7 linked regions of the Homo sapiens genome follow. The protein of the gene in region 5 interacts with the protein of the main gene of each other region in a pairwise test. Each region holds a gene or a part of one and is shown on either strand. Other genes may lie near its edges.

Region 1 (4,255 bases), on a different chromosome or scaffold from region 5:
GTGTCAGGCATAACGTGGAGAATGGATTAGAATAGATTAAGTCAATAACAGGGTACCGTTAAAGGAGTCCAAGCAAAAGATAGTGCTGGGCTTCACTCGTATGAAGGTTGTGGATACAGAAAGAGCTTCCTGGGCTTCAGAGATACAGGATGAGTATCCCTTATCTAAAAAATTTGGGACTAAAAGTACTTGGGATTACACTTTTTTTTTTTTTGATTTTGCAATATTTGCATTGTGCTTACTGGTTGAGCATCCCAAATCCAAAATCTGAAATGCTCCAATGAGAATTTCCTGAGTGTCATGTCAGTGCTCAGAAACTTTCAGATTTTGGAGCATTTCGGATTTTGAATTTTTTGGATTTGTGATGCTTAGCCTGTAGTTAGGTAGAATCAATAGAACATGAGGATTGATTGCATATAGAGATGAAGACAGAGGAAGAACCCCCAGGTTTCTGACTGGGTGAGAGTTTTTTTGTTGTTGTGTTTTGTTTTATGGAAGAGACTGATGCACATTTAAATACTGAGGCAAAGAGCTAGTAGTGAGAGCAAGATGAAATACAAAATAGTCTCTTTGGAGTAAGATGGAAGGGGGTTGGCATGGGATTTGGAAGCAAGGTATAAGAACTGGCCTTAGAGGGAATAATAGCTCTTTCTCTTAACAGTGGAAAAGGGGAAATCATGGGTTAGGATACTGTTATGCCTCAGGATTTGGTGTTGACAGGAAATAGCGCCTTTCTTTGGTAAGAGATAGTTTTCTGAGAGTGATGGAGTTTCTGAGAATTATCAAAGACATTAAGACAGATGGAAAATATTTATGCAGTCACTGAAAAATAGGAGAGTCAATTGTCTGTGGAAATACTATGGTTGCTTGGCAGTGTTTAAGAGCCTTGCTGAGGTCAATGAACATGAGTTTATAGTAACATTACCAGACTTCTGCTTGTATGGTTTTCTCTGGCAGCCCTCAGAAATCTTGGTATAGTTGCAAAGCGAAAGTTTGTTGGATTCAACCACTGTTCAGTTTCTGGTTTTGCCAGAAATTTGTTGGCAGCATATTGGGGCAGGGAATTCAGGAGAGAAATGAGGACCAGAGGACACTGGTGAGTGGGAGCAAGTAGAGGGATAAGTGAGCAAAGGTTCAGAGGAGGGAGAACAGCTGTGAAGTAAATGAGTAAATATATTAGAAAGGGAGGCATTGTGGTCAGAGTAGTGGGTCTGAATTTGTCATATCACAGGTGAGGCATTTTTGCATAATTGACTCTGAATATTTTGTTTCAGAGTGTAGAAAAGCTTTCTTAGTGCTTTAGGTGTTGCATATGGATATCTGAGGACTTAGGATTTATAGTTTATTTTATAGGGTATGAAGAACTGTCAGGAAATAGGAGGTCTTCCACATCTCTTGGGCATACTCTAAAACTTTTTCTGTGGGAATTCGAAGTCTAGTGTGTTCTAATCAAATCGAGATTCATTTTTATTTACTTCTTCCTGAAAGCAAATTTTAAATAGAAGGAATTTCATATAAAAATAAGGTGTATTCCTACATGTGGCCTTACATTTGAATCACCTGGGTTGCCTGAGAGAAGCATTTACCTGGGAATATGTATTTCTTGGCCCTACTTTAGACTCAATGGAATCTCTAAGAGCTTCCCTTCCCTCCCCTTCCTACTCAGGTGGAAAAGGACCAAGAGAAGGGATTAATGTAAATTGAGGACAGTGTCAATTACTGTGCTAGGAACTTTAGATATGTTATAGCATATATTTCTTAATAGGAGTTGTGTAATTTTTAAACTGTTGTTATACTCCATTTAAACCCTCAGAAATGGTAACATTTGCAAACTTTCTTTGTAGACCCGCTATCCCATATTGGAGAATCCAGAGATTTTGAGGAAAACAGCTGATGACTTTCTTAATAGAATTGCATTGACGGATGCTTACCTTTTATACACACCTTCCCAAATTGCCCTGACTGCCATTTTATCTAGTGCCTCCAGGGCTGGAATTACTATGGAAAGGTATTAATTAGTTTTTTAACTTAGGTCAAATTCAGTCACTGGGTTTATTTATTCATAGAATCATTTCTGACTGTAATCTTTAATATTCTTTGTGGCTGGGATGGTTGGTGAGAAGAAGAAATGAAATTGCCTTTTGAGGAAATCTTTAAACATCATGAAAAATACTGTTAAACTAAGAGGATACATTTAGGATTAAAGTAGAAGTAAACCAGGTGATCCTTGAAAGACTGATATAGCTATCAGTATATGACAAATTTAGAAGTTCCTGTGAACTGGTGAGCAACTTGAGTGCAGCAAATGTCTGCCTTGTTTTATCTTTATTCCCCTTCTGTAGAGCATGTATGACACGCGGAAGTTAAATATTGTTAACTAACTGAAGCACAAGCTAGCAGCCAATTAGACATTTTTAGTTTCTATATTAAGTTTCTCAATTTATGACCTTTGAGGTTCTGCTTGATTTCATTCCTAGAAATAGCTGAGGAAGAAAGATGATAAAACTTCCTAAAGTTAATTAAAACTATTTTACATGATTATAATCCCTTATCCATAATTTCAGAATCCATTGATAAGGTGGCAGCAAATAGAGCAGATTGTATTTAGTTTTTATTTCACTTAATAGGAATATTTGTGTTCCCTTGCAGAAATCTTAATATTCCTGATTACAGACATCACTTGGGTATTTCACATTTCATAATATATACACCAGATAACTTTTCTAAGACATGAATACTTATTAATAAGAATTTCGCAACACATCTGCATCTAGGATAAGGGATTGTAGGTTTATATTTTATTTATGATATGCCTGTTCTCTGCAAACGCAGCTCACCAACTGTATATAAATGTATACGTTTAATCCCAAAGTGATTTATATCTCCACTTATTTACTAAGCAAACATTTATTAGATACCTTCTATGTACTACTATGCACTGTACTACACTTTAGGAGTATGAATAAGATAAATCTCTGTGTTAGGAAAGATAGTCATGTAAATTACTGATGTATATGGAGTTAAGATGTGGACTTCCATTAATTTTGTGGGGGTTGGGTGGTTATTTTTTTTGAGACAGCATCTCACTCTCACCCAGGCTGGAATGCAGTGGCACAGTCAAAGCTCATTGCAGCCTCAACCTCCCAGCCTCAAGCGATCCTCCTACTTCAGCTTGCTGAGTAGCTGGAACCACAGGCACACACCGCCACACCTTGGCTAATCTTTTTGTTTTTTTTGTAGAGTTGGGGTTTCCCTATGCTGCCTAGGCTCATCTCAGTCACTCCTAGACTCGAGTAGTCTCCTGCCTAGGCCTCCCAAAGTGCTGGGGTGACAGGTGCACACCACCATACCTGGCCTGCAGACTTCATTCTGTAAGGGAACAAAAGTCCTCTTTTCCACAATTCAAATAACCAAAAGTTTGATTAATCTTGAAGCATTGTATATAGTGCATCTATAAATTCTTCAGTGAAGGTCCAAATGAATTTATTTCATCTTAGAAGTTTAGTTCATTATAATTCCAGGAAGGCAAAATTGAAATTGCCATACCTTTGGCTCCTTGCAAATTTAATAGGCTTTCGTAACATTCCCAGAGACTAGACATTGGGCCTTTTTTTTTTTTTTTTCCTTTAGGGAAATGCTTTCCAAACGTTTTTAACTTACAGCTGATTTACAGGCAAATTTTTGGGATATGTGGAAATGAGCTTTACATTTATTGCTGATTTCAAAAGGGAAAGCCCCTGTGCTGTTGTCATAGTCTGGATAATGCCTCAGATTATTAATCATAGGATTATTACCGTTATTTCTGGATTTTCTTCTCTTTCTTGCAGATTTAGAGCTTTATTTTTCATCTGCTACTTTAGGTATTCTTATTGCCTGTGGATTTTATTAAAACACCACAATATTATAAGTTCAAATTCAAAATTGAGGTTAAGAGTTGCTAACTTCACAGAGATAATGAGTCTAGTCAGCCAACTCTTAGCACCAAACCTATGACCCTTATGCTTAAGAAATCAAAAGGAAATGAAGAGTAAAAATAAAGGAAGATGACAAAAATGGGAGGAATTTTAGGTAGGAGAGGGAAAGGAAAAAACTAGTTATTTTGAATTACTGGTAGCCAGAAATGGATTAGTTGTCAGGAGATTTCCTGATTTTCAGATCCAAAATTTATTCCCACAGTAGATGATGATGATGTAATATCAAACAGTTACCAAACTTTATAATAAAATTTAAATAAATCTGGATAAAGACAGCAACA
Region 2 (4,255 bases), on a different chromosome or scaffold from region 5:
TGCTCACCTGCACTTCTCCCCACGAGCCGGGAAGACCTCGAGAGGGCCCTACACCCCTCCCCACCCCCGCCGCCTCTAGCAAGCTGGTTTATGTGGTTTCCTTGCCAGCGGCAGTCATGAAGGGATTAAAGCACGATGGCACTGACCGTGAGAGAAAAGCAGCTTGCCTCTTTGGGGCCGTTTTCCAGGCTCCGTGGATGCTGGGAGGCCCAGCCTGCGAGTATCAGAGCCACCCATCGTGTGGCACTTGAAGGATCAGCTTGACTCATCCAGAAGGGAGGCTGCATCCACAGAGCGATAGAGGACAGCTAAGAAGATGCTCCCTCCGAGAGAGCGGTGAGGGTTATGGAGGTTCCTGGCAGTGGCGCCGCCGCGGTCTGGGTGGGAAGGTTCTGCCATCCCAGGCAGTGGCTGCAGCTCTTCCTCCTGCACCATCTCCCCGTCCTGGGACTCTGCACTCCGGTGAGCAGTGGAACCACGGAGCTGAATGTCCAAGTTCGGTGAGAAGACTGACCAGATGTCCTGCCTCAACCTGCCTTTTTGTGCCACCCACCCACCCGGGTGCCTTTACACACGTGGCCTTGTGGGGTCTCCCAGCCAGCATCAGCTCATCTCCTAGGAGGAGGTGCTGCTGTTGACGCCAGGCAGCACTGCCGAGCCAGCCCCGGCAGCAGCACGGAGCCAGCGTCCTTGAGGGTGATTCTGCTGCGGGGCCTCCCTGCTGGGCTTTAGCCTGCCCGAGGAATGAAAATTGTCCCAGCCGCCAAAGATTTTCTTGAACCTCTGGCATCAGCCTCAGTCTGTCTGACTTAATAATAACATGGCATGTGATCAAGCCCCAGCTTCTCTGCTGAGCTATTTCAAATGAATGAGGCCAGTTTCCTGCAAGATTCCTGGCATCCAGCTCGTGGGAAAGTTGGTCGGCCTCAGTCACCGTCAACCACACTGGTCCCTTGGCAGGGGTCGGTGGCCCAGAGGAGCCCTCAGTGGCCACGTTGGGTGGGTGGGTGACCTGCTCACAGTGGCTTCACCTTCTCTGAGCTGTGTGTCTTGCTAAGCGGGTCACTCTCAAGGCCCTAGACCTAGGGGTGGCCCTTGTGGGGAGACAGCCACGCAGCCATCTAGAAAGTGGGTTTGTGGCACCCACTGGTCTTGTTTCCTGTCCAGTAGAGCCGAAGAAGCTGCCTTGGTGATTGCCGTCCCCACCCCAATCTGTCCCCACCCCAATCTTCAGGACTTAAGATAGAGGAATCCTGGGCTGCCTTAAAGGTGGCCCTGTCCCAGTGCCTTGGGCACCCCTTGCTGGGAGAGACACTCTCCTAAGGGTCCCAAAGCTGGGATTAGGAGGGAACCATTTCACTTGGGCTGACGTGATGCCCAGATAGCCACACCCCTCCTCAGAGAGCTCAACTGGGAGCCACAGGCTGGCTGCTGAGCCCACCCTCTGGGGCCCCGCCCCTGGCTCGGCCCCTCTGGTCTCTGCTGCAAGCAGGCCTCTGGATCTCCACCTGTCGGGTGTAGGGAGGGGCCGTTCCCAGCCTGGCCCTCTGCCTACTTGCACCCCTGTTGTATCTGGCAGTCATTCATTCTTCCCCAGACACCCTCTGGCTGAGGAGGGTAAATGGCAGGGCCCTTTCTGCCTATGACTTGGGTTAACTCTCCATGCCACAGCTGCTTTGTGCTGGGAGATACTTGACCCTGGTCTCTGCAGCTCGTGTGGGGCCAGAGGGCTCACCCCAAGCCACCCTCGGCCCTGACCTGAAGGCTGCTCCACGGGGCAGGGAGGGCATCCTGTCTGCTCTGAGTTCTTCCCAGCAGAGCAGGGTGCTGAGCACATGACCACAGGGCGATTGTGCACACGCTTCGGCCATCGGTTCCGTTCCCGGGGCCAGCCCTTGCATCCGTGTGGGGGTGGAGGTGTTTTTTTAAAACCAGTATGTTTAAAACGTATGTTTTTTGCATCAAACTGTTAGCATAGCTTAAAACCAAAAGCCATTCTTTGTCACCCTGCCAGCTCCATGAGGGAGACCCTGAGGGGTTTGAGGCTGAGTGGGGTCCACTTGGAGGAGTCTGGTCTGAGGCCCACTGGCTTCCTGCCACTCCGGGTCCTTTCTTGGGACTCAGTGCAAGCCCAGGAGGAAGCCAGTCAGGCCCAAAATCAGCCATAGGAGTTGGGTTGGTCATGAGCCACGTCCTGGAGCAAAAGTCCTCCTTGGGAGGGAGGGGTAGATGTTGGGGCTAGAGCTTCCCATGCATCAGAGCCAGAGGGCCTACCGCCCACGTGCCCAGCCCCGCGTCTGCTAGACGATAAGGTGGGCCTCCCCCGGTGCCAACAACCGAGTCTCAGGAGGGCGGGCTGGGAGCCCTGGGGCTTCCCCACTGATCTTGAGGTTTTCTCATCTCCGGCCTTGGCCTCATCCCTTTCAGGAATTGCCGTGTGCAACATCCCGTCTGCAGCCGTGGAAGAGACAGCGGACTCTACCATCTGCCACATCCTCAACCTGTACCGGAGGAACACGTGGCTGTACCAGGCACTGCGGGAAGGCACGCGGGTTCAGAGCGTGGAGCAGATCCGCGAGGTGGCCTCGGGAGCGGCCCGCATCCGTGGGGAGACGCTGGGCCTCATTGGCTTTGGTACGTGCCACCCTCTGCGCTGACCCCCAACCCCTCCGACACTGGGGCTGGTGTAGTGGGGACCCCTCGGGAAAGGCAACCCCAGCCTGCTCTTGAGGAGCCAGGGCAGGCAGGGCCAGCACCCTCCCCGTGTTGCACGGGGTAGGAGATCGGAGTCAAGACCCATCAGGCAACTCACCCTAGAGGCAGGATCTGGGCTGGTTCTGGAAGAATGCGTGTCCACTGCTGTCTGTAGTGTCTGGCAGGACAGCATTCTTTGCTGTGGGGCAGCGGGCAAGGCGCTGTGCCCAGTAAATTTCCCTGGGCAGGGGTGAAGGGCAGGGGCTGTATGGAGGTGTGTCGTAAAGCAGCAGCCAGGCTTGGGGCTCGTGTAGGGGCTGGCGTAGGGTTCAGTGGAGACGCGGGTTATGGACATGGCCTCACTCCTGAAGGCCTTCAAATGCCAGGTTGGGGTGGCACAGTCAGGCCATCAGCTTGGAAAGCTCTCCTGAGAGAGGGGCAGGAAAAGGAGACGTGAGGAGAGGCCCAGGAGGGTCTTCAGCAGGGTGGTAGGGGCCGGTGCCACGGAGAAGGTGATGGTAAGCAGCCTGATTCCATGGGGGCTCGAGGAGGTCCCCACCCTGCTCACCATCAGGGTCCACACCACACCCAGGAGACCTCGGCCCATTGCCACTGAATCTCAACCCCACCGCTTACCAGCTCTGTGGCCTTGTGGGAATTACCTGAGCTTTTTGCCTCAATTTCCCAATCTGTAAGTAGATATTTGGTGGGATACGTGGTATCTGCCTTTTGGGACTCCAAGAAGGCGCATGTGCACACGGGGCCAGTAATGTTCTGGCCTCCGGGAGACTCCCAGCTGCTGCTCAGCCCTTGCTTGGAGCTCCGCGCCTCCGAGGACGAAGCCCCCGTGCTCCTCTCCCCACAAGCCCCGCTCTGGACCTGGGGTGCCACTTGAACAAGAGAGAAGTTGCTGGACGCTTCCAGGAGTGCACACCTTTCTGTCCCCGCTACAGGCTGTGATCTCCTGGGTCTGGCCTCGCCCGACGCCTGGAGTCTGAGTTGAAGTGTCGGGTGCTGGGGATCTTCTGAAAGGACCCACCGTGTTTTGACTTTGTTGGAAAACAGATGTGGTGTGTGAACACCAGGCTCCCTCTGTCCGGGCCCCACTGGGCCTCATGGCTCGGAGATGCAGCTTCATCTCCATCTCTGAAGCCCCTCCTGGGGCCTCGGTGGTCTCTGGCCAGGCTGCAGAGCCTGGGGGTGGTCATGAGCACCCTGGGTACACGGTGGGGCCTCACTGGGGAGGTGCTTGTTTCAGGGGCTTCTGACTCCAGCCGTCACGGGACTTCTTCCTGGGGTCGTTCCTGTAGCTGTGCCCTTGTCATTCAACTTTAAAAACCCTCTCGGTGTATAGAGGTCAGTGCAGCCCCCTGCCGCCGCCCTGTTTTCTCGAGACTGTACACTAACCCCTGCCGCCACCACCCTGGATCCTCAGCACAGGGACTGTCGTGCTCTCCTTGTTCCCTTTCCAGGTGTCTCTGTAGCCTTCAGGACTGTCGCTGCTGCAGCCATCCTGGGCTAAGAGCTTTTGCTGGCCTCGGGTTCTACTGAGCAAGAGTCC
Region 3 (4,255 bases), on a different chromosome or scaffold from region 5:
TTAGTTCTGCCAAACCTTTTCTTTTAAAGCCCAACGAATAAAACCCATCACCTTTCACAAGACCACCACAGCAAGTAGGCAGGAATGCCAGTGTTAAAAGTGAAATCTTTTGAATTTGTAGTACCTTTCCTTTTCCAAATCTAGCTGAAATTTCTCACTTGTTTTCCTTTTGATGAAGCTAACCACCGGCATTTCTCCTAAGAAATGGATATAAAAAAAGTTTGATATGGTTAAAGTAAGAAGTGCTAGCTCCTAGAATATCTCTGGATATTGCTGTCCCTTGTTACAGAGCATGAGCCCTGCCCAAAGACTGGAGTGTAATGGCATAGAAAAGGTCAGGAGCCCACTGAGCCAGAAGTATAGGAGGCTTGCGACAAAGTTTAACAGGGGCCTGTTGCTATCACTGGGTGGAGGGACAGATGGGAGAACACTCACACCATGGAATCTTAGGCAGCCATTAATAAAAATAAGCCACACTGTTTTGTTTGTAGGGATTTCCTTGGGTATTGCTGAATTTACATTAGGATGTAAAGAAATGTTGCTGGGCGTGGTGGCTCATGCCCTATAATTCCAGCACTTTGGGAGTCTGAAGCGGGTGGATCACCTGAGGTCAGGATTTCAAGACCAGCATGGACAACATGGTGAAACCCCATCTGTACTAAAATGCAAAAATTAGCTGGGTGTGGTGGCGGGTGCCTGTACTCCCAGCTACTCAGGAGGCTGAGGCAGGAGAATCGCTTGAACCCGGGAGGCAGAGATCGCAGTGAGCCGAGATCCCACCACTGCATTCCAGCCTGGGTGACAGAGCGAGACTCTGTCTCAAAAAAAAAAAAAAAAAAAAAAAGATGGCAGCTTTACTGGTTCAAAAAAAAAAAAGTGAAAAAATGTATATAACAGGACTCCAAATGTGTATGTTTGTATGGTGGTTATATAAGAAATTGCTAAATAAAATACAGGGTGTCCTGGTTAAATTTTAATTTTAGCAAAACAATCATTGCATGGAATATACCTACACTAAAAACAATTCTTTGTTTCTCTGAAATTCAAATTTGACTGAATGTCCTGTATTTTTATTTGCTAAATCTGGCGACTCTGTTATATAAGGATGGAGAAAACTGTGAAAGGAAATATACCAAATTGTGGGAGGCAAGGAAAAATGGCACTAGTAACACCCCCAGCAAATATGAAATGAACCCATTTTTGTAAAATTATATGCTTATGTGCATACATAGATGCACAAGGAAGTTAGAAAAAAAGGTTTTGGCATACTAAGTCTTTTGTAAGAAGCATGCATCATATACTAAGTGAAAAAGGCATGTGGCAGAGTAAAAAGTATAGTAAGATAATATGTGTGGAAAAAGAAACAAGTAAAACCCAGTATATGCTTGTTTAGGCTTGTATATGCAAAGGTAGAGCTTTGAAAAGATGCCCATAAGACTGTCCAAAGTGGTATCTCAGGGTATGGGGTTGGGGAATTAGGGTTAGCTTTGCTTTTATACTTCTTTATATGATATTATATCAACTAGCTCCAACAAAATCTAGTACTTATGTATTTTGAAAAAAAATAAATTTTTTAAGTAAGGCATTTAATCTGGAGCTTAAGAGCATAAACTTTGGAGCTATATACATGTGGACTCAGGCTGGATCCTGCCACCTTCTAATTGTATACTCCTTGGAAAGCTACTTCACCTTATCTGTAAAATGGAGATAAAATGCATGCCTATTGTTTATGATGAAGATTATAAAGAGCTCTGTATTGTAACTGGCACACAATGGTTAACAACCTCTAATGCCAGTTATTATTATTACTAGAAAATAACCTAGGACATAAAAATCATGATATTCAGGGAGATGCCTACAAACCCTGATCTTCTTGAAGCAAACCTTGATCTGCTGGAGGTAAGCCACCACCAACTGGCTTAGGATCTTGACCAAGACATCTCATCTCTGGGCCTCAGTGCCATATCTACACCATGAGAGAGATAGACTGGGTATCCTCTGATTCATTCATTTACTCAACAGTTTTGAAGCAGTTGCTCCAAATCAATCCCTGGCCTAGAAGCTGGAGACACAGAGAAGAGGGACCTGGCTCTACCTTCAAAGACCTGGCTTGAGTCAAAGGTGACTCAGTCTCTCGGAGGTGATGCAAATAAACCAGGTGGTAAGTGCTACGAGATAGTGCATTTGGGCACCCAGAGAAGTGGGAGTCAGAGAAAACGGCCTTTTCAGCCACAACATTTGTGAACATCTTTCAGGTCTTGGATTTTTTTAAGACACTGTGCGGATGGTTCCCAGAAAGGTAAGCAGAGAACAGAGGCTGAGTACCTGATGTTGATTTAGGATCGGCAGGGGAAGCAGGATGCCACACTGAGAACATCTCCTCAGAATGTCATAGGCTGCTTTATCTCCTCTAGGGGAGCTGGTCCTGGGCTTGGGCTCTGACATCAAAAGTGGATCCAAGGTTTTGTTTTTGCTTCTTGGTGCTTTCTTTGATGAACTTTCAGAATGAAGAGGAAATCTGTTTATACTTCTTGTCTTTGGACGAACATCTTTCTCCATCGTGGAAGTTTGATTTTCAGCAGCTTGACTTGGAAGAGATGAAGGAAGAATTTCTGGATTTCCAACAGGAAAGTGTTTCTTAAACTCTGAGTCTGGACAACATTTACCCTGCAATTGTGAATAATATATCAAATTTTAAAATGACTTCAGCTTTAATGGTCAGAAAATACAGTAGACTAGATAACACAAGAAATTCCCACTGTAAACACTTTTATATGGTGTATAAAATGTGACAGACATTCAATTTAATAGCTGGCTTTGCAGGAAAGAAAGAAAATTTTGCATTCCAGGAATGAAGGTCTGACTGGTTGCTATGGTTTGAATGTGTCTCCTCCAAAATTCAGGTGCTGCCAATGTGATGGTATTAAGAGGTGGGGCCTTCGGGGGTGATTAGATCATGAAAGGTCCTCCCTTTTTAATGAGATTAGGGTCCTTATAAAAGAGGATTCATGAAGTATTTGGCTACAGCCTTCTACTCTTTTGCTTTCTACCATGCTAGGAGGCAGCAAGAAGGCCCTCACCAGACACCAAATGGTGGTGCCTTGATCTTGAACTTCCCAGTCTTCAGAACTGTTCGAAATAAATTTGTGTTCTTTATTATTACTCTGTCTGTGGCATCCTGTTATAGCAGCACAAATGGACTGGTTAAGCACAGGAGTTGACACTGCTTATGGGAGATGTAGGGTCAACTTTGTAACTAGGGGCTTGGATGACAGGAAAGTCCCATCCACACAGGTGGGGATTTGGAAGTAAGACTCTATTGATCCTGCATAAAGCTGGAAACTTTAAAGGATAAATTATGGTGGGTAAGAGGAAAAGTATCAGCTAATGAGAAAAGGAAAGTGGCAAGGAAGCTTTTCTTTCTTGGGTCGGTATTTGAGTGTGGAGATGAAAACTTATGCCCCTGAAAACTCAAAATCACAGGTCCATGCCATTCCTGTGTGTGGGATTAGGATTTACTTTGGCCTCATGGTCTGGGAATCCCTGAGCAGAAGAATTAACATAAACATTGAGATGTCTGGCAGAAGCAATCACAAAATTCCTCTGGAGGGACAACAGCCTCAAAATAGGTCATAGAGGATCCTCATAGGTAGAGTCCCACCAGATAGAAACTCACAATCCAAAATTACAAACACACAAGGAAGCAATCCACCTTGAGTAAGAGTCACAGACACAAAAGTAGTCAGATTAGCCTCCAAGAAGTTCAGGTAATGCAACTATAGGATAGAGACTGTAAAATAAATTAATTAAAAATGATTAAATCTGGGAAAAGAATAACATCTCATGAAAAACAGAACAGGTAAATTTGAAATTTTCTAATTTGTAATTAACAAATAATAACTTTATATATTTATGGGGTACAATGTGATATTTTAATATATATATACATTGTGGGATGATTAAATCAAGTTAATTAACATATCAATCACTTCACATACCTATCTTTTTTTTGTAGTGAGAACAAAAATAGGCAAATTTGAAAGAAAGATAAATTGAACTTCTAGACATGAAAAATGCAGGTATTGAACCTAAATGGATGGGCTAAAAACAGAAAATTAGATTTGGCCAAGAAAGAATGAATGAACTTGGAGATAATTTCAGGAAATTACCCAGAATATAAGAGATAGAAATAGAGAAAATATGAAAGGTTAAGAGACATAAGGCGATTAAAAGAGAGAAATGAAAAAAAAGGAGA
Region 4 (3,998 bases), on a different chromosome or scaffold from region 5:
TCTGCCTGTGCATCCCTCACCTCCAATTTCTGGCAGCCAATTATCTTTTTACTATCTCCATAGTTTCGCCTTGTACAGAATGTCATATAGTTGGGGTCATACAGTATGTAGCCTTTTCAGATTGGCTTCTTTCACTTAGTAATATACATTTAAGGTTCCTCTGTGTCTTTTCATGGCTTGATAGCTCATAGCTTTTTAGCACTAAATAATATTTTGTTGTCTAGAGGTACCACAGTTATTTATCCATTCGTCAACCAAGAGGACATCTTGGTTGCTTCCAAGTTTTGGCAATTACGAATAAAGCTGTTATAAACATCTGTGCACAGGTTTTTGCGTGAATGTAACTTTTCAACTCTTACGTGGTAGGATGTTTCCTTTTCCTAATTTTGATATGAGGGTATATGATGTGAGGACTGGTTAATTAAAAAGTTAAGTGAGAGGGTATCTGCCTTACATTCGCTTAGGTATTATTACATGCGTGTGGGAAAAAGAGGAGGAAAGACAGCTTGAAAGTGACTGTGTTTCAACTGTGCTGAGCCAATTCTACAGAGTTCAGTAATAGGACACTGGTTCCAGAGAAAAACAGGCTGTTTCTGTTACGGGATTGGTGAGGGGGAGCCAAATCTCTCACCCACAAATAAACCTCTGGAGGGTTTTCTGCTGAGTTTAACCTCCTCCCACTCCCAGCCTTGAAATAGATTCATTAATGGTAGGTGCTGAAATTATTGCACTAAAAGTTACCTTTGACTTGAGAGCCACATGGCTCTGCAGTCTTGGATGGCAAAAACGAAGGAGAGAACTTGTGAATTCCTACCGTTATGGTGGAGTGATCAAGATTATGAATTAGATGCCTGCTGGAATTCTCCTCTTACCCTTGTCCTCACAGCTCTCTTTTTCCCCTTCTACCTTCAAATATCACTACTTATAGCCTTTCCTTTATGTTTAAGTTTGTTTCTGATTCTTCAGGTTCTTATTTCTACATCTATGAGCATATTGACTTCAGGGACTGGATCTTATTAACTGTTTTATCCTCGTTATCTGGCACATAGCGTGTTCTCAGTAAGTACTTTTCGTACTGAGACAAAGGAGACAAAATTTTACAGAGAAGTCAAAAAGACTCCAACTAGTTTTCACATTAAACTTACTTCCAACTTGTGAAGACTGTTGAATTAAACAGAAGAAATTAAAGACAAAATTCAGCTTCCATTTGGGAGGGTATATCTAAAATGCAAAGATTGGCCAGAACCAGGGAAGATGACTTGCAACAGGAAGAACTTTTATTGAAACACCACCATAGAGAAAAAGCCAAAGAAATGGTACTATTCTAAAAATAACTTGTCTTAATTCATTGGAAGAAAAGCAGAAAAATAAGGGGACCCTTATTTAGGAAACTAGCTTCATTTTGGTATTTTAATTTGGGGGCCATTCTGTCTCAGAGGCTGGAGTTCAGGAAGACACCCTCTGTTCATTCTTGTTGTTGACTTTGGTGGATTTCTCTTCCACAGTGTGAACTCTGGATGAGAGAACTTTGCCACGAGGATCTATCTCTTCAACAACTGTTTTGACAATGGTGGTTTTAGATGAATCTAAAATGCCACATATAAACTGTTTAGAATTTATCAAATTCATAAATAGGAAATAAAACATCATTTGAAACACATACAAATAAACACTGAATGCCTAACACAGCTTTTGTTTACCTTTTGTTTGATTTCCTGGGCCTCCATAGCCTTTTGATTTAGAACAGGAGCTGTAAAAGTATAGAGCGCTTATATTAATTATTCTGTTTTACTGAGGAAACTGAAAAATAATGATTTAAGGTGGGAATTCACTGCATTCTGAAATAACACTAAAAGAGTATTATCTATGCGTGATCTAGATCATAGATATTTTGTACTTGATTTCAAATCATCTTTAGTAACCTTAAAAATGAATTGTTTTCTCAATGGCGGCAATACTGACCCATCTTCTCCATCTATCAGGAGGCAGTAGGTCTCAATTTCTTTTTCCAGGTGGACCTTGATGTCAAGGAGCTGCTCATACTCGAGCTTCTGGCCCTCGGTCTCGGTTCTGACCTGGTGCAGCTGCTCCTCCAGGGCCCCGATCTGAGCCTGGATCTGTGCCAGCTGTGCACAGTAGTTACTCTCGGTCTCTGTCAAGGAGCACTCCAGGGAGTGTTTCTGTAGTTTGGTAAGACATGGTTTAATAGAAAAGGTCACGGTGTTTTAGAATAAGCCAAAGCATTTAAGAGATAATTAAGAGAATTATCCTTACATCATGCAAATAATTATATTTACCCAAAAGATTCCACTTCTTCAATATTAATTGTTGCCTTTATTAAATGTCCTACTACTTTTCTATTTGAGAATGACACAGCTGGTGCTGAATGTCCCTCAGATGCCCAGGTGTGCTAAAAAAGATGAAATTGTCTCTTCATAGGGCACAGACTGAAAGATCCCTCCCCTGCACCAATATAGCCTGTGCTTGTAGAGTGTGGCACAATTTGCTACTTTACCCACAACTAGAAGTCCGCCTATACTTTGCTACTCATTTCTAGCCATGTGACAGTCTTGTCTTATGAGGATTGTAGCTCTTCTATTAAAAAGTCATCCTGCAGTAAACCGCATAAACGTTCCATGAGTAGAATAAACCACAGAAAATAATTACCTTCTTAGACTTTAAATACAGTAGTTCAATTCATTGGCTTGTGAATCTGAATGGGTTTACAGATATACTCAGAGGGAACACTCACTGCAATTTTACATGGAATGAAGATGAGAGTGTCTTATCCTTTCACCTGCAAGTATTTTTTATATAAAGTCTTGATTTTATATACATTCATAGCCTCATCTGTGGATAAACTCTGGTGGTTTACTAGCCATAGTGGGAAAAGTATAGACTTGGGAGTTAGAAAATTTGGAGAGAACTTCTGGATTCCTTCATACCCAACTGTGGGACTGTGGGAATTGCTTAACTTCTTCGAATCTCAGAGTCCTCTTTTGGAAATAATGACATGAGTTATAACGTCTGCCCTGCCCATGCCCCGGGGTTGTTGTGGACTCACATGTGGGCGGAAGTGCTGGGCAAACCCTTAATGAAAGCAGTTATGATTATCATTACACATGTTTAGTTTTATAGTCAGCCTTCATGCCTCGACTTTTCCTCTGTCTATGCCACTTACAAAGGAACTTGTAAGTGCTCTTAATTGAGTGGCCAAAAGGAATGCTAGATGAAGCTAGGAGTGGTGCAAATGTATTTTTGCTCTCTTTAAGCAGTAGGATTTTTTTTCTTTTTTTTTAAATGGACACATAAGAATTGTATATATTTATGGGGTTCCATAATTATATTTCAAAACACACAATGTGTAGTGATAGAATCAGGGCAGTTAGCATATCCATGGTCCCAAACATTTATCTTTTTTGTGTGTGTTGGGAACATTCAAAATCCTCTCCTTGAACTATTAGAAATTATAGAATAAATTATTCTTAACTGTAGTCATTCTACAGTACTATAGAACACTTGAACTGATTCTCCCTATTTCTCTGTAATTTTGTATCCTTTAACCAACCTCTTCCTATCCCCCCATCCCCTTCCCAGGCTCTAGTAAGCACTTATCCCACTCTCTACTTCTGAGATCAACTTTTTTAGCCTCCACATATGAGTGGTTTTTGATATTTTGACTTATGATAGAAGATTCAAAGTCAAAACGATTTTCTTTTTCCAGTATCTTGACTGTATTTGCTAATTTCTAATATTTCATAATTATTGGCATCCAGCTATACTTTGTAGGCAAAGAGGATTGTCATGTGCAAAATGCAAATATGTCTTATGTCAAGCACTGTAATTAATGGTTAAAAACTAAAATATGTAATTATGTTGGAAGAAAATTCTCTTCGATTATTTTTTTCTCAATTTCTAAAGCAAATCTGTTTTGTAACTTTTCGCTTACCGTTGCTAAGAGGGACTGAAGTTCAATCTCAAGGGTTTGAAGAGTGCGT
Region 5 (4,255 bases):
GGTCAGGAGTTCAAGACCAGCCTGGTCAAGATGGTGAAACCCCATCTCTACTAAAAAAATACAAAAAGTAGCCGAGTGTGGTGGCAGGCGCCTGTAATCCCAGCTACTCATGAGGCTGAGGCAGAAAATTGCTTGAACCCAGGAGGCGGAGATTGCAGTGAGCCGAGATCACACCACTGCACTCCAGCCTGGGCGACAGAGCAAGACTCCATCTCAAAACAAACAAACAAACAAACAAACAAACAAAAAACAGCTTCACCCCAGAGACGGTCAAACTGTCCTGGTGCCAAGTTCCATCCAGATATCACTTGGGGCCCAACCCTGGTCTTCTAGATCTCCAAGCCTGGAGCGGCCACAGGAGTCGGCCAGCAGCAACTCATTCGTGGCCCTCCCGATGCCGTACTCTACACATCTTAAATATCCCCACAGGGTGACATAGAGGCCTGGAAATTGCTGACAACAGGCCCTGGACATCAGGCATTACATCAGATAATTTATCAGCGGAGGATGGAACACCTGTGTGGACCCTCCAGAAACTCACGCTGAGAACACGCAGGCTCAATGAATTCCTCACACCTGCATGAATACGTCTTCTTCCTATCTCTGACTGTTCCTCTCATCTCTTTCTGCCCAGCCTCTAACTATTGTGATCTTTCAGGGCTTGGTCCTGGGACTTCTTCTTTCAAGTAGTATATTCTCCTTCACTGCCCCCAGGTAACTGTGCATAGCTTCAGTTTTAAACATCTTCTCTGTGTTTGTGACTCGCTCCATAAACAGCTAAATACCAGTTGGAAAAAACACAGGAATTTCAAACATAACACACCCAAAATGGAACTTCAACGCCAGCCCTCTGCAGTCTCTACTTCTCAGTTCACAGCTCCCTCATTGCTTCAGTTGTCTAAGCCATAAACCTGGAAGGCCTTTATTTCCTACTTTCTGTAATGTGGAATCCAGCTTAATTTCTATTATTTGACTGAAGTAAATTTAATGAACTTAAATCTCTGAATTTGAAGCCCAATTCACATTATTAGGGTGGTCTCAACAGCTACACGTCTTGAATTTTTAAAAAATTGTCTGAGACTCTCAGTATTTCCAGGAGACTGGCAGAAACAAATGCAAATTATCTCTGGAAAAACGCACAGCTGTGGCTGGGCACGGTGGCTCACGCTTGTAATCCCAGCATTTTAGGAGGCCGAGGAGGACGGATCACTTGAGGCCAGGACTTTGAGACCAGCCTGGCGAAACCCCATCTCTACTAAAATTACAAAAATCAGCCAGGCCTGGTGGCGGCCTGTAATCCCAGCTACTCAGGAGGGTGAGGCAGGAGCATCGCTTGCATCTGGGAGGCAGAGGTTGCAGTGAGCCGAGATCATGCCACTGCCCTCCAGCCTGAGCAACAGAGCGAGGCTCATCTCAAAAACAAAAACAAAAAAGGTTGAAGAAACAACAGGAGTATCTCAAGAGAAAAAGAACTTGATAAATTCAACATTGATTCATAAAAATTCTTAGTAAACCAGAAATAAAGGGGGACATCCTCAATTTGATGAAAGGCAGCCATTAAAAAAAACTATAGCTAGGGCCAGGTGCGGTGGCTCACGCCTTTAATCCCAGCACTTTGGGAACCTGAGGCAGGCAGATCACGAGGTTGGGAGTTCGAGACCAGCCTGACCAACAGAGTGAAACCCCGTATCTACTAAAAATACAAAAATTAGCTGAGTGTGGTGGCACTCAGCTACTCGGGAGGTTGAGGCAGGAGAATCGTTTGAATCTGGGAGGAGGAGGTTGCGGTGAGCTGAGGCTTCGCCATTGCACTCCAGCCTGGGTGACAGAGCCAGACAGCATCTCAAAAAACAAAAACAAAAACAAAAACAAAAACAAAAACAAAAAACACAAAACAACAACAAAAAGCGCTATAGCTGTATCAGAATTTAGAGTGAAAAGACTTAATGTTTTCTTTCTTCCTAAGATCGAGAATAAGCAAGTGTCCACTCTCACCACTTCTGTTCAACACACTGCAGGTCTGAGCCAGTATAATAAGGCAAGAAAAATTCAGAAAAGGCTTACAGACTGGAAAGGCAGAAATAAAGCTATCTATACTCATATACTGCATGACTTTGTAGAAAATCCTGAAGGATCTATTTATAGAAATCCACTGTCTAATGAGTGAGTTTTGCATAGTTATAGGGTACAAATGTCAATATATATAAAACAATTCCATTTCTATATACTTGCAATGAACTAGAAATGAATGAAATGTCAATTAGAAATTGATATTTTAAAATACCGTTTACAGTGGCTGTAAAAAACATAAAATACTTAGGGATACATCTCCAAATACATATAACATTTTATGCTGAAAGTGACAAAACACTGATGAGAGAAATCGAAGACCTAAATAAATGGAGATATTTTGTATTCCTGGACTGAAAGCACCAAATATTGTCAAGATGTCAATTCTCCCCAAACTGATCAACGGATTCAATGTAATATGAATAAAAATCCCAGCGGTCCATTTTGAAGAAGCCAACAAGCTGATTTCAAAATTTATGTGGAAAAGCAAACAACCTACAGTAGCCAAAACTATTCTGAAAAAGAATAAATTTGGAGAATGCACAGTACCTGCTTTCAAGACTTCCTACAGAGTTATCAATCAAGCCAGTGTGCTATTGGCAAAGGGAAAGAGTCAACCATCAATAGACCTATTAGAGTCACAAATAGACGTGATCGCATATACCAGTTGATTTTCAACAAAGGGGCCAAGTAAATTGAATGGACAAAGGTAGTGTTTTTAACAAATGAAACTGGAACAAATGGATACATGTGAGTCAAAAAATAAAAATAGAAGGTGGGGGGAGGAGAGGGTTTGCACCATTCTGTGAACTGTATACAGATATTAACTCTCAGTGGTTCATAGGCCACAATGTAAAACCGAAAACCATAAAACTTTTGGAAGGAAATCTTTGTTGGCTTTGGCAAAATTTCTTAAATAAGACACAAAAAGCAGAAGTCATAAAAGAAAAAACTTGATAAATTGAACTTCATCAAAATGCAAAACCTCTACACTTCAAAAGACAGTATTAGGAAAATGAGAATACAAACCATGCTGGGAGGAAATATTTGCAAAATTTATCTGATAAATGAATGCTAAACAGAACATATAAAGAAATTATAAAACTCAAGAGACATACAACCCAATTTAGAAAAGGGGTTTGTACATGTATTTCACCAAAGTTGAGATAGAGGGAAAACAAACACATGAAAATATGCTCAGCATCATTAGTCATTCTGGAAATGCAAATTAAAATGACATACCACTACCCATCTATCGGGTCGGATGTAGTAAAACAAACTGACAATACCAAACCCTGGTGAGAATACAGAGTAACTGAATCTTTCGCACGTTATTGGTGGGAAGGCAAAATGGCACAGGCAATTTGGAAAACAAGTTTGGCAATCCCACCCTTAGACAGTCAATCAAGAACTATGAAGCTGTGCCCACACAAAAATCTGCTGCTAATATTTACAGCACAGAGCTGGAAACAACCCATGTCCGTAGAATTGCAAAAGGATAAGTAAATTATGGTATATTTATACAATGGAATATTATCAACAATAAAAAGGAACAAACTACTGATACACGAAGCAGCCTGGACGTTCTATATGTCAACTGCAGTATGCTGTCAGCCTCGAAAGGCCACACACTGTAGGATTCCATCGATAGGACATTCTGGGAAAGGCAAAGCTATAAGGACAGGAGATATAAACCCTTTGTTATACATGCTGAATTTCTTCCCCAGAAGTTTTAAATTTTTAAGCAGTGGAATCTGCCTGCAATCATGTTTCATGGCTGGGGAACTGGTAAAGAATCTGCAGCCAGGCGTGGTGGCTCACGCCTGTAATCCCAGCACTTTGGGAGCCTGAGGCGCGTGGATCACCTGAGATCAGGAGTTCAAGACCAGCCTGACCAACATGGTAAGACCTCGTCTCTACCATAAATACAAAAAATTAGCCAGGCGTGGTGGCTCACGCCTATAATCCCAGCACTTTGGGAGCCCAAGGCGCGTGGATCACCTGAGATCAGGAGTTCAAGACCATCCTGACCAACATGGTAAGACCTCATCTCTACTATACAAAAAATTAGCCAGGTGTGGTGGTGCATGCCTGTAATCCCAGCTACTTGGGAGGCCGAGGCAGGAGAATCACTTGAACCCAGGAGGGGGAGGTTGCAGTGAGCCAAGATCGCACCACTGCACTC
Region 6 (4,255 bases), on a different chromosome or scaffold from region 5:
GACCTCAGGTGATCTTCCTGCCTCGGCTTCCCAAAATGCTGGGATTGCAAGCGTGAGCCACTGCACCTGGCCTCAAAAATCTCTTTGAGACAGGGTCTCACTCTGTCACTCAGGCTGGAGTGCAGTGGCATGATCACAGCTTATTGCAGCCTTGACCTTGTGCACTTAAGTGATCCTCCCACCTCAGCCTCCCAAGTAGCTGTGATCACAGGCATGCACCACCATGCGTGGCAACTTTTTTGTAAGGTGGGGTCTAACTATGTTGGCCAGGTTGGTCTCAAACTCCTGAGCTCAAGCAATCCTTCCACCTCTGCCTCTGAAAGTGCTGGGATTACAGTTGTGAGCCACTGCACCCAGCCTGAAAAATCTTATAGCTTGTGACTGTCAGAGAGAGAATTAGAACCCAGGTAGTCTGACTTTAGAACCTAGCTTTTAATTATGTTCTGTTCCTTTCCTGTGACAGTAGCTCCTTCATAGGCTGGCTGAGAGAATTAAACATCCACAAAAAATGTTTATTTATTTATTGAGATGGAATCTCACTCTGTCACCCAGGCTGGAGTGCAGTGGCATGATCTCGGCTTACTGCAACCTCTGCCTCCCGGGTTCAAGCCATGCTCCTGCCTCAGCCTCCTGAGTAACTGGGACTACAGGCATGCACCACCACGCTTGGCTAATTTTTTTGTATTTTTAATGGAGACGGGGTTTCCCTATGTTGGCCAGGCTGTTCTCTCAAACTCCTGACCTCAGGTGAGCCGCCCGCCTTGGCCTCCCAAAGTGCTGGGATTACAGGCATAAGCCACTGCGCCCAGCCGAAAAATGTTTTTTTAGTTAAAGAATGTTGAACACCAATAAAATATAGAAAATAGTGGAATGAACTCCATATGTCCAACATCAATAACCAGCCACTCATGGCCAGTCCTGCCCCATCCACTCTCTCACTTTCAAGTGATTTTTTTTTTTTTTTTGAGATGGCTCTCGCTCTGTCACCCAGGCTGGAGTGCAGTGGTGCGATCTCGGCTCACTGTAAGCTCCGCCTCCCGGGTTCACACCATTCTCCTGCCTCAGCCTCCTGAGTAGCTGGGACTATAGGCACCCGCCACCACGCCCGGCTAAATTTTTGCATTTTTAGTAGAGACGCAGTTTCACCGTGTTAGCCAGGATGGTCTCGATCTCCTGACCTCGTGATCCACCCGCCTCGGCCTCCCAAAGTGCTGGGATTACAGGCGTGAGCCACTGTGCGTGGCCTCTCACTTTCATGTGATTTTTAAGCAAATTCCAACATGTATTTTTTTCAAAAATATTTGTGTATCTTTAAAGAATAATGGTGTTTAGCAGAATTAGCTAGATGGTGGGGATGGACTGTAAGAAGGACGGGCATGACTGAGTAGAGACAAGATAAGGCATTATTAGCGGGGTTAGGAAATGAATGATGGTAATCTAGGCTCTTAATGGTTGCAAAGTAGAGCTAAGTGATCATTTGGGCAATACAGAGAAGGTGAAATTGATACTTTGGTAATTCATTCGTTTCTTCACTCAGAATTTTGGACACATATGATGTAGCTACCAGTGTGCTAGTGATGGGGCATAAAGTTGCTTTTTGTTTGTTTGTTTTTTAGAGACAGAGTCTGGCTTTGTCACCCAGGCTGGAGTGCTGTGGTGCGATCACGAATCACTGCAGCCTCGACTTCCTGACCTCAAACATTCCTTCCACCTCAGCCTCCTAAGTAGCTGGGACTACAGGCATGAGCCACCTCACCCGGCTAATTGTTTTATATTTTTTGTAGAGAGGGGGGGTCTCACTATGTTGCCCAGGCTGGTCTCGAACTCCTGGGCCCAAGTGATCCCCCAGCCTTGGCCTCCCAAGTGCTGGGATTACAGGCGTGAGCTGCTGTGCCCAGCTACCTATAATGTTTTAATAAGAAAAGACCACTTTCTTGTACTTTTAGACATTAAAATTTAATGGAAAAGAGAGGAGATGATAAGTAAACAAAGAACTGAACATAATTACAAATTGGGATGAGAGCTGCCTTGGGAATGTAGAAGGAGCTCTTAGACAATAAAAAGATTGGCTTTATATTGGATGCGGGGCTCACAATGAAGGTCATTCTGAGGAAATTACATTTAAGTTGAGCAAGAAATGATGAAGAGGAAGAATTAACTGTGTGGTAGGGTTCTGGGAGAACTCAGAAATCAGGGAGTATTTCTCTGAAAAAAGGACAAATAATTTTTTTTTTTTTTTTGAGATGGAGTCTCGCTCTGTCGCCCAGGTTGGAGTGCAGTGGCACAGTCTTGGTTCACTGCAACCTCCCAGGTTCAAGTGATTCTCCTGCCTCAGCCTCCCGAGTAGCTGGGACTATAGGCATGTGCTATCACACCCCACTAATTTTTGTATTTTTAGTAATAATAATAAGTTTTTTAAAAATAAGAAAGATGGCTGGGTGCGGTGGCTCATGCCTGTAATCCAAGCACTTTGGGAGGCTCAGGTGGGCGGACTGCTCGAGCTCAGGAATTCGAGACCAACCTGGGCAACATAGGGAGACCCCATCTCTAAAAAAAATACAAAAATTAGCTGGGCTTGATGGCACATGCCTGTGGTCCCAGGTACTCAGGAGGCTGAGGTGGGAGGATCACCTGAACCTGGGGAGGTCAAGGCTGCAGTGAGCCATGATTTTGCCACCACACTCCAGCCTGGGTGACAGAGCAAGACCCTGTCTCTCAACAACAACAACAACAATAATAAAAGATAAGAACTCTTTCCCTGTAATCCCAGTGCTTGGGGAGGCTAAGGTGGGAGGATCACTCGAGCCCAGTAGGTTGAGGCTACAGTGAGCCTTGGTCACACCACTGCACTCCAGCCTGGGCAACAGAGCGAGACCCTGTCTCAAAAAACAAACAAAAAACATAGCTTTTTTTTTTTGAGACGGAGTCTCACTCTGTTGCCCAGGCTGGATTGCAATGGTGTGATTTTGGCTCACTGCAACCTCTGCCTCCCGGGTTCAAGCTATTCCTGTGTCTCAGCCTCCCAAGTAGCTGGGATTATAGGCATGTGCCACCACGCCTGGCTAATTTTTGTATTTTTAGTAGAGACGGTTTCACCATGTTGGCCAGGCTGGTCTCGAACTCTTGACCTCAAGTGATCCGCCCTCCTTGGCCTCCCAAAGTGCTGGGATTACAGGCATGAGCCCCTGTGCCCTTCGAAAAAAAAGAACTTTTTAAACCTCAGTATCATTGCTCTGTCTTTAAAAAATTAAAGATTTTCTTGTAATACCAAATATCCTGGCTGTATTCAAATTTCCTTTTGGCTGTAAAATGATAATTTTTTTCATTAAAAAAAATCAAGATCCAAATAAGCACACATATTATGATGTTACGTCTTTTCAAATCACTCTTAATCTAGAGCTTTGGTTTTGTCTTCATCATTTTTTGGACGAGCAAACTAGGTGGTTTTGCCCTGTTATCAGCACATAAAATGTTTAACATTCATTATCGTTACAAACTCCTTAAAGACACATAAAAAGGTTTCATTTTAGAAAATGTCTTTTATTTTCCCCCAAATATGATGGGAACAGCTCAATATTGTGGTGCAGTATTGCAATATTAGCTAGTCCACTGATTAATGCTGCCAACTCCTGTGCTTGTAGATAAAGTACAGTCTGTGTGGGTCGGGATGCAATTTAATGTGTTGAATGGAGGGCAGGTAGCCAAGGCAGTTGCTTTGAAGAACTGGAAAAGGAGTCTCTTTCTCAGACACTGGTGGGAAAATTGTCATGAGAAATGTACAGTTCTGGAAGGTGTATGGTGTGAATGGTACACCCTGAGACGTGGTGTTGTGCGGTGCACAAGACATACAACTGAATAAGGCACTCTTGGTGGGGCTCGCAGAAGAGGGCCAGCATCTTATTTATTTATTTATTAATTTTGAGATAGAGTGTCACTCTGTCACCCATGCTGGAGTGCAGTGGTGTGGTCATGGCCCACTGCAGCCGTGAACTCCTAGGCTCAAATGAACCTCCTGCCTCAGCCTCCCAAGCAGCTGGGACTACAGGTGCGCACCACCACGCCTGGCTAATTTTTCTATTTTTTGTAGAGATGAGGTCTTGCTGTGTTGTCCAGGCTGGTCTGCAGCTCCTGGCCTCAAGTGATCCTCCTTCTTCAGCTTCCCAAAGTGCTAGGATTACAGGCGTGAACCACCGCACTCCGCCAAGGGTCAGGGTCTTTAAAGACTCCTGGATTCTGTGGGAGGGCACCTAGGTGT
Region 7 (3,352 bases), on a different chromosome or scaffold from region 5:
ATTAAATGCTTAGCAGATATTTGTGGAATATGGAATGATTAAATGTAAATGATGTCTGTCCTTTTTAAAGAAGACATTTTAGAGTTTCCTAGGTCAAACATATTTCATAATAGGCATAATCATAGGCAGGACCTTTGCCAATAATATTTGTAGAATATTAAATATGGAAAGAAAGCCATTGAAAATGACTTTATTTTTTGTTTTTTCCCCACCCTTCAAGGCAGAAGTATCAGCATTTTTTTTTCTTTTGCCCCTTTTAAAGTCAGGCTTGGAGCTCCCTGGCCCCTTCATGGCTCATTTATAATGCATGGTCATTTGGATTTTTGGTTTTGTTGCTCACTCCAAAGCACTTCTTATCAATCACAGTATGAAGTTGATACACAGATTTCCATGTAGCATAAAAAATGTTTGCTAAAGGTCACTGAAAGTATGGCGATTATGACTCTAAATTTTTTTTACTGGTATTTTAGCAAGATGATCCTATTTTCTGAATTAGTGAATTATATAACAACATTCACTCTCCCCTCCTACCCACACTAAACTTCAAGCAGGAACATATGCCAAATGTCCAATTTTCCAGAACATGCCATTACAGACATTACTTAGACTAGCAGATCACTCTTCACCAACAGAACTCTCTACGACACCTGGCACACAGCTGGGTGTTAGTCGTAGAATGTGGTGGCTCTGGGTTTTGTCTGCTCATTACCATGGCTCTATTTTTTTGTCTTCCGGTTCTTATGTGTACTCCTCTTTCAATCCTTGTGGTCCCACAGGGTCGTCAGAGTGAGGCCCCACCCTCCCCCCACAGACAGGAATGAGCCTGTGACCATGAATTTATGTGCATCACCCCGCAGCACCAGTGCTTAGTTTAGAGAAGGGCGCAATGATTCAAAGCCTTAGAGTCAATGGTTAGAGAATCCATCTGAGAAGGAAGCCAAGCAGGACAGGCTGATGACATCTTTGAAACCACTGAATCCAGCTGTGCTTCAGGTCCACAACGGAACTTCCCATTAAGTCAAACAACACAGTACCTTTATGTGTAGGCAAGTTTCAGTTGAATTCCTATAACTTGCAACCAAAAGAGTCCCAATGAATACAATATGTCATTTGAAAAGTTAAAATAATCATGATATTAACCAATCTGTCTTGAACCCCTTCCTTTCCTTAACATTTGGGGTTTTAATGTACAGTTTTTAAAATGCTGACAACTTAAATGACATATCTGAGTGTGAGACACACTTAGCCTAGAAGCTCATGTCAAACAATTATTTATTTTTTATGGTACAAATTAAAAGTGACAGATCTGAAGCTGTTAAGAAATACACAAAGTGCAGCTTTACTGACCATACAGATATTGCTCTAGATTAAGTACAGTTTTTTTTTTTTTTAAATATTAAGCAACCTGTGCAGATAAAATCAGCTTTGGTTTCAATGTCAGAGCAAGTAAGGAGCTTTTAAATATTCAGTTTGGCTTCTTGGTCACAAGTCTATCATGTCAACTTCTTGTCATGATGATTTTTCCAAAGCAACCCAGTCCTGTTTCCTGCCCTCCCTCCTGCTGCCTGCTCCGGGCACGGAGAAGCAGATCTCTTTGTGGTGCCTCATAAGTGACCCCGGTGACCAGTCTAGATCACAGCACATAGGACAAAAAAAAAAAAAAATCACTTTCTTAACAACAAATAAACAAATGTGCCTCACATAATTTCAAGTTGAAGACAAGCAAATCACATGACAAAAAGCTCATTACAAAATGTTATCCAAACAGATTTTACAGTCAAACATTGAAATGAAAATCAATTTCCTTTATCTCAATTTTTTTTTAAGCTTGGTCATTAACTGGGTACAAGTAGAGTGCTGAGGTAAAACATTGATGAACAGTTTGTATTTCTTTTTTTTTTCTTAAAATAGGAACAGTTTAGTATTGCGAGATTGTCAGCAACATTTAGCCATATCTATACAATGTGCATATACCTACAAATATTGAGCTTTGGTCCAGCGTAGAGAAACGAGCAAAGGCATTTTACGATTTCTTTTTGGTTATAGCTTGAGTTCTTTGATACACCTCTACTTGTTTTGTTTTGTTTTTTTCCTAGCTCCTTTTGCTTTTTTGTTCTCTCTTTTGTGTTGTATGTGTATGTGTGTGTGCATCTGTGTGATGACAACATAAAGAAGCCAAAACCTTGCAAATGCAATTAAAAGTTTCAATTGTTCAAAATATTTTCTTGGTTGAAAAAGAAAGAAAATCTATAAACAAGTGTAAAATGTAATATCCACTGTCATTTTTTCATGAAGTAATGAAAATGCAGATAACAATAATTAAAAATTATGTGAGAAAAATACTGAAGCTTGAAATACAATCACATATGCCCAAAGTGGCTTTTATTTTTTGTGGGTGGCAACCTTAACCTTCAGTTCATGGAAACATAAAAGACACTTAAACGCCATTGGCATATGAAGTTGTTTACAAGTAGACATGAGAAATGTCATCATAAAATTAAGCATTAGGTGTGGTCCCAAAGACTTATGAGTTACACAGTATAATTTATATTCCTAAGAATCGGTTCAGGCACCTTTTTATGCCTTGTAGCAAAAAATTTATCTGTAAAAAATTAATATAAGAAGCATTACAACACCTTATAAATAATTTATAAAACAATACAAAATTATAAAACTATAAAAAAATCACTGCACATGAATGGTGTTACGACTGTCGGATGAATATATTTCTTTTTTGTTCCACTCTGGAAGATTACTTTTATTTTATATTTTCCCTGTCCTAGTTAGACCCTCCCAATTATAGATCTCAGAACTGAGCAGGCCTTATGTAACCGCTGCCGGCATATATTTAAATATTTAGCATCCATCATATGTTATCTTGTTAACTTCTCTTCGCAGGGAGCTTTTCTTGATGGAATTTGGAGCAGGTCCTAGGAGAATCCAAAATCTGTTTTAATCAATAAAGTTTTGGGTTTCTGGGTTGTCCATGTTTGTGCAGTTTTTGAGGTGGCGAAAGGGGCTCTGTGATGTTGGCATTGAAGATCAAGTTAGCTGTGGTCCAGTTAGCATTGACTGGTAAAATGGAAACACCTTTACGAGTGACTTGTTCCACTTCCAGGATTCCTTTTAGAGTTTCCTTGCTGGTAGTCTCTTGATTGCTGCATGAATCATTGGAGGGGACAATTATACTGTAGCATTTACACAAACAGCAAAGGAGCCAACAGAAGAAACTCAAACTCCCCAGGGAGAGGGAGTGTATTAGGGGAAGGAGATGGCATTTCTAATCAGTTGGGCAACTTGAGATTGGGTTTCTCTTTTTTCTTTCACAACTTACTTCTAGATAATACATTAG

The links.
Region 1: the proteins of TRIML2 (region 5) and CCNH interact in binary tests that used the Homo sapiens proteins (3 or more experiments, as listed by UniProt).
Region 2: the proteins of TRIML2 (region 5) and CTBP2 interact in binary tests that used the Homo sapiens proteins (3 or more experiments, as listed by UniProt).
Region 3: the proteins of TRIML2 (region 5) and XAF1 interact in binary tests that used the Homo sapiens proteins (3 or more experiments, as listed by UniProt).
Region 4: the proteins of TRIML2 (region 5) and KRT27 interact in binary tests that used the Homo sapiens proteins (3 or more experiments, as listed by UniProt).
Region 6: the proteins of TRIML2 (region 5) and NFKBID interact in binary tests that used the Homo sapiens proteins (3 or more experiments, as listed by UniProt).
Region 7: the proteins of TRIML2 (region 5) and POU6F2 interact in binary tests that used the Homo sapiens proteins (3 or more experiments, as listed by UniProt).

Annotation. Positions count from the first base shown.
Region 1 is NC_000005.10:87,402,597-87,406,851, reverse strand, and holds part of CCNH (cyclin-H), read left to right. Parts: intron 1-1,844; coding exon 1,845-2,008; intron 2,009-4,255. UniProt on the Homo sapiens protein: Regulates CDK7, the catalytic subunit of the CDK-activating kinase (CAK) enzymatic complex. CAK activates the cyclin-associated kinases CDK1, CDK2, CDK4 and CDK6 by threonine phosphorylation.
Region 2 is NC_000010.11:124,996,343-125,000,597, reverse strand, and holds part of CTBP2 (C-terminal-binding protein 2), read left to right. Parts: intron 1-146; exon of another isoform or gene 147-746; intron 747-2,427; coding exon 2,428-2,634; intron 2,635-4,255. UniProt on the Homo sapiens protein: Corepressor targeting diverse transcription regulators. Functions in brown adipose tissue (BAT) differentiation. Isoform 2 probably acts as a scaffold for specialized synapses.
Region 3 is NC_000017.11:6,769,055-6,773,309, reverse strand, and holds part of XAF1 (XIAP-associated factor 1), read right to left. Parts: intron 2,668-4,255; coding exon 2,326-2,667; coding exon of another isoform or gene 2,269-2,325; exon of another isoform or gene 961-2,268; intron 198-960; coding exon 141-197; 3' UTR 1-140. UniProt on the Homo sapiens protein: Seems to function as a negative regulator of members of the IAP (inhibitor of apoptosis protein) family. Inhibits anti-caspase activity of BIRC4. Induces cleavage and inactivation of BIRC4 independent of caspase activation.
Region 4 is NC_000017.11:40,775,553-40,779,550, forward strand, and holds the end of KRT27 (keratin, type I cytoskeletal 27), read right to left. Parts: coding exon 3,950-3,998; intron 2,181-3,949; coding exon 1,963-2,180; intron 1,751-1,962; coding exon 1,701-1,750; intron 1,587-1,700; coding exon 1,447-1,586; 3' UTR 1,256-1,446; downstream 1-1,255.
Region 5 is NC_000004.12:188,092,246-188,096,500, forward strand, and holds part of TRIML2 (probable E3 ubiquitin-protein ligase TRIML2), read right to left. Parts: intron 778-4,255; coding exon of another isoform or gene 737-777; exon of another isoform or gene 545-736; intron 1-544.
Region 6 is NC_000019.10:35,890,529-35,894,783, reverse strand, and holds part of NFKBID (NF-kappa-B inhibitor delta), read left to right. Parts: intron 1-1,616; coding exon of another isoform or gene 1,617-1,724; exon of another isoform or gene 1,725-2,081; intron 2,082-4,255. UniProt on the Homo sapiens protein: Regulates the expression of IL-2, IL-6, and other cytokines through regulation on NF-kappa-B activity. Functions in the regulation of inflammatory responses.
Region 7 is NC_000007.14:39,466,505-39,469,856, reverse strand, and holds the end of POU6F2 (POU domain, class 6, transcription factor 2), read right to left. Parts: 3' UTR 1,256-3,352; downstream 1-1,255. UniProt on the Homo sapiens protein: Probable transcription factor likely to be involved in early steps in the differentiation of amacrine and ganglion cells. Recognizes and binds to the DNA sequence 5'-ATGCAAAT-3'. Isoform 1 does not bind DNA.